2 separate regions of the Homo sapiens genome follow, and region 1 is linked to region 2. Evidence: fine-mapped expression QTL. Tissue or cell type: whole blood. Region 2 holds a variant in brackets; the other region holds the start of a gene. All regions are shown on one strand. Distances are from middle to middle.

Region 1 (2,620 bases), 110 kb before region 2:
ATCAAATCTGTTCATGGAACACACAGTTAATTTCTGAATTTCAGATAAACAAGGATTTTTTTTGTAGTGTTAAGTAGGTTCTGTATTTGCTAAATATGGCAACCCTATTCTGATAACAAATTAAAGGATGCCCACCCTAAAAGTGAAATCTGCTGGCACTCATGATTTAGACAGTACATATCCCACGGAGGGTATGTTTTAAAAAACAGGCATGATGAAGTAAAAGGAGAACTGGTTGCTAGAATATCTGGGTCCTACTCCTGGGAAGCAGCTGTAAAGAGCGCTGTCAGATTGCGTTTGAATGCCAGCTTTGCCATTTGCCGAGTTTCTGAGCATTTTAGTCAACCACCTACCACTCCTACTCAGTTTCCCTACTTGGGAAGTCAGAGCAACACTCATTTAAGGAAGAGGATGTGTGGATGAAATGAGCTACTAAATAAGTCTTTATATAATAGTTTTCTTTTCCTCAGCTTTTCAGGTCACTGATTCCAAGACTTTGGGCCTGTTTCTCGCCTGTAGAATGAGGGAACTTCACTTTAATACTGGGGTTAAATAACTCGTTACTACGGGACCCAAAGCGGACAACCAAGGCATGTTTTACAGAGAAGCGATCACAACGAGGAAACGAGGTTTGCAAAAATAAGTAATTTCAGAAGAGAAGGAAACCAGCAGATTAGTTTTGTCTGCGTCCGTCACGTCTGAGTAAACTAAGAAATCTGAAGGTAGATGTGGGAGTGGTGTTTATAATTTCCCTTACGTAAGCACGGCTAGAACGGAGGCGACGGGCACTGGAATTTAGAACTCAGCATTTGAAAACACTTTGTTTCCGTGCCATAAAAGAGCGCCAAAATGGGGCTACAACGGCTAAAGAATTTCCAAAAAGTTCCTTGTGCAAAATAAAGGAGTCGGGGGCGCAGTGATCGGAGGCTTTCCGTCCTTTTTCATCCCCCGTTATCCAGGCGGGGTCCCTCCCTCCAGCTACGGACTTGGGAGCCCATGATTGCGAACCCGCACACCTTTTCCAGCCTCCCTACGAAGCAGACAGGCTTGTCGATGAATTGAGCTAGCATGCCGGCGTTGATGCGCGACCTGGGCAAGTCCATCATGTCCACCATGATTATGGTCCAAGACTGCGGCTGGCGGGAAACCCACGGACGACTGAAACTGTGCGCCCCGCGGGTGTCTATGGGGCAGATTTCTCGGCACCAATCAGCGAAGACTAGCGCTCCAGCTTCGCCAATTAAATGCGCGGAAACCTAAATCGCAATCGCGCTGTCTCTGAAAGGGGTGGAGAAGGGGCTGGATGAGTCCGGAAGTGGAGATTGGCTGCTTAGTGACGCGCGGCGTCCCGGAAGTTGACAGATACAGGGCGAGAGGCAGTGGAGGCGGGACTTGGATAGGGGCGGAACCTGAGACTACCTTTCTGCGATCACAGGATTCCCGGCGGTGACTTGACCCCGGAAGTGGGGTGTGAAGCTCCGGTGCTGGTGCGGCGGGGGACTGCGGGGCCAGCCTCAGGTACCTCGTCTCGCGGGAGGCGCCGCAACCTTACTGTTTCCCCATTCTTCCCGCGAACAGAGTCAAAAGAGCTAGGCGGGAGTCGGCACTAGCTGCTGCCGCGGTGCTGTGGGTGCTGCGTACCAGCTGTTCACTGCTGTCTCGCCTTCCCTCTTGCCAGTTCTGCGTGGGAGGCGCGGGAGTTTTGCGGAATGATACGTGGTGTGGCGTCGGGGTTGTGATACCCGCCCCCTTGGAGATGGGCAGCGGGGTCATCAGTGATCTTGATCACTTTCTTCAGGCTTTTGCCACTTGTTGGCTGAGGGTCGATTTACTCCCTTAGCTGCGTCACTCTACTTTCTCCACTTTCTCCACCTGTAAGAAGAGAGATTGATCCGATTACTTCTAAGACGTTTTTTAGCCCAACCTGGCCACACTGCGGAGGCGCCGGTTCTTTCACCCCGCTAACCCCTCCGTGTTGGCAGCCAATAGAAGCACTTAAGGATGGGTAACGGGGAAGAACCACTGGCCAGTACTAGGGGAGACAAGCTTAAATCGTTGTTAGACCCCGAGCTAGGGTTCCCCGAGCTAGGGTTCTCCCTTCTGAGGCGTGTTTTCCCCATCTGCAAAACGAAGGGTTAGGCGGAATGATTTGCAAGGTCCCAGTTGACTCTGACTTTTGGCCATATGTTTGACTCAACAGTTTAAACCCCCTCAGCAGTCTTTCTGTCGTTGCCCTCCACACTGCGAGACTCTGGAGGGCGATCTGGAGGTCTGGAAGATAACCGATTCCTGGGAGATTTGGGGGTAGTCTCCAATCTGTCCCTGGCTCATCTTGTGACCCGAAGCCGGCGGCCTTGCCAGGAGTATTCTAGAATGAGTGCACATAAAAATACCTTCAAACGGTACGGTGGAAATTGGACAGAAGTTTTAATTGGGTATTATAACGTTGTGGAAACTGAGTCTGTGAATTGGCCCAAAGCTACAGAATTGTCATCGTTCAAATTCCCTTAAGCAAAAAAGATCCGATTTGAGACTTCACGTGGCAATTTAAGATTGGAATCTCATGTACGATAATTAAATGATAGTCTCCCTTAGTGTTTCCTTAGCACTTAATAGGTTT
Region 2 (2,767 bases):
CTTATTATTGGCTTTGACACAGTTTACACATACAATCCTGTTTCTTATTGCTATCTTCTGGTATTAAGGCCCTATAGATTTAAGAGATTTTAAAAAAATGTTTATATTTCTTTTAAGTGGAGTGCATGTTTGTGTGTGTGTGTGTGTGTGTGTGTGTGTGTGTCTGTGTGTATGTGTGTGAACTGTTATTGGAAGTTATTGCCATGTTTATTTTAGGCACTTCATATATCTAATTAGAAATGATGTTTATTGTTAAGTAGGCAAAGTTGCCTTCGAGTGCATGGTGAGAAATAGTAATGAGATACTTTAGCCATTAGGCCATGAAGACTTTTACCTAAATAATAGGGAAGGAATAAATCCTAGTATTGTTTTGGAGTTGCTACAGGAGAACAGAAATTGTTTAAACGAGAGAGTTTCAAAAGGCCCCACTACAGTTAAGTATATTTAATTTAATTAGGTAATCAGTATTATTCTTGCAACTATTAATGGCACCTCATTTGTTTAACACTTGCTATATCATAGAGCATTTCATACGTGCTACTTTATTTGGTCCTTTCAGAAATCCCTAGAACAAGGCAGGGCAAATGTTTCCATCTTGGTTCATGGATGAGGAAAACCAAGACTCAAAGATATGCAGTGACTTGGTCAAGGTCACAGAGTAGTAGAGGATGGCTCTCTTTCCATTACAGTGACAGTCAGAAAGCGTCAAATCTTAGGTTATCATGACACTTAGTAATTATGAAGTATATTTTTTCCAAGAAATAATAAGCCTTTTAGGCAATTGAAACTGCCGAGAAGGCTGCCAGAGGAGTAACTCAAAACAGAACAAACATGGAGGTTTTTGGTCCTTTCATCTCTAGCATTGAGTCCACTAGGTCAGGGTTTCAGGAAATGGGAAATCTTCATTGTTACCTGCTAGGTTGCCTTATTTCTCCATTTAATGGAAAACTTAGTCTTCATTATTTTCAGTTTAACAAATAATTTTCCTTAGAGGAAAAGAAAGTTTTGCCTGTATTTTGGGGAAAATGTATAGAAATTAAATCTAAATCATTGAATTATTAGATGATGTGCCATTTCTGAGCCAAAAAAGTAGGAAAACAATGCATAATCATCTAATAAAGTATATGTTTTATGATTATATATGTTTCTTGTTTTGTTTTGTTTACAGTGGCGTGATCTCGGCTCACTGCAACCTCCGCCTCCTGGGTTCAAACGATTCTCCTGCCTCAGCCTCCTGAGTAGCTGGGACTACAGGGGCCTGCCACCACGCCCAGCTAATTTTTTTTTTTTTTGTATTTTCAGTAGAGACGGGGTTTCACCATGTTGGCCAGGATGGTCTTGATCTCTTGACATCATGATCCGCCCGCCTCGGCCTCCCAAAGTCCTGGGATTACAGGC[G/A]TGAGCCACCGTGCCCGGCCTATATGTTTTATTTTATAAAGTTATATGTTTTATTATTTACTTTTTGTTATGTAATTGTTTATGTCATAAAATTATAATATAATAATTCCTTAAACCAAATTATATTCCATAAATTATAACATATGAATTCAATATGCATTTATAAAATAAAGATTTCTAGACATATGGTAGACTAACAGTGATATTTTGAAATCTACTTCTGCCACAGAACTAGATAACCATTTCCAGATTGGAATATAAATTAATCAATGTCTCATTGTTAGAGCTGCTGTAATTTTTTGAGGGGATCAAGTGAGGAAGGACTTATTTTTGGCTTAGATTTACATTTACAGCAAGGTTATCAACATTTTCCTGTGGTGGCACATTAATATTAATAATATAATCATAATGCCGATTTACACATTTACCAAATTCCCATCTATTACCTTCATTCCTGTTAAAATACAACCTATCATGTTGTTCTTTGGGGATGAGTAGTACATTTATAGACATATAAGTATATGTGTATATTTATATATTTGTATATATAAAAATTTAAAAAATTCTTTTATTTTTAGGAGCAAAAATTTGGGGAAAATAATGTAATATTTATCAGAAGGATACTTTAGGATTTAGCTCTATCAGCCAGGCAGGGTCATCAGTAAATCTAAGAACTGCCAAACTTCTCACACTCCTAATTCCCTCTTTTATCCCTCCTTTTCTGGCTGTGCTAGAGATATCCTATTACACATGATTTTCTTTTACTCTGGGCTCTTCTTCGCCCAGATCAGTGTGATTGCTTTGCATTGATTTCTGTATTTGCTTAAAAAAAATTTCCCTTGATAATGTTTTTAAACTTTCTAGCATGAGCCTTTCCATACTTGGTATTGGTGTTTTATAATAGATTTGAGGACAGGTTTGTGGGGGATTCCATAACAAATTCAATTTATCAGTTACTTCTTTTTAATGTTAAAATAACTGCAACAATTCCACAATAAATAGAGTGAAATTTGATGTGCTAAATTAATTTAAATGGTTTTGACACATTTTCCTTGAAGGACTCTTTTCTAGGTTTTTATAATCTCACCTCAGTGAGAGTACAGTATGGTTTAATTACTTTCCAGCAGTGCACACTTTAATAGCCCGTATTCCACGTGAAAGCTATGTGTCTTCTGTGGGTTTGAACTGTTTCTGCCTAATCCAAGGAAAAATATTTGAGGAACATTAGTTAATGCCTTTTCCAGGAATGGGAGTGGGTAAGCGTTTTTTTCATGGCTTATAGAATATTTAGCAATTTTAGCTTCCAGTACTTAATTTTATAGTGTTCTCAGTACTGGTGGCAAAGGCTTCCTTCAGAAAAGTGAGAAAT

What was found. PIP is the estimated chance that this variant, and not a neighbour inherited with it, causes the effect.
Region 1: it holds the start of UMAD1, and the variant in region 2 is fine-mapped to the expression of UMAD1 in whole blood (TOPMed, PIP 0.93).

What each region holds. Positions count from the first base shown.
Region 1 is chr7:7,639,304-7,641,923 of GRCh38, forward strand. UMAD1 (UBAP1-MVB12-associated (UMA) domain containing 1) reads left to right here and starts at 1,449. Exons shown (of 4, transcript NM_001302348.2): 1 at 1,449-1,518. It overlaps RPA3 (replication protein A3), which reads right to left. Exons shown (of 8, transcript NM_002947.5): 5 at 1,017-1,872. The coding sequence starts at 1,115. RefSeq lists enhancers at 630-679, 1,050-1,099, 1,370-1,569, 1,610-1,659, 1,740-1,909 and a silencer at 1,140-1,269.
Region 2 is chr7:7,746,826-7,749,592 of GRCh38, forward strand. All of the region lies in intron 2 of UMAD1 (UBAP1-MVB12-associated (UMA) domain containing 1), which reads left to right. Among named protein-coding and RNA genes, the nearest start is that of RPA3, 30 kb to the left of the region's middle. The variant G/A (reference allele first, on the strand shown) is at 1,399.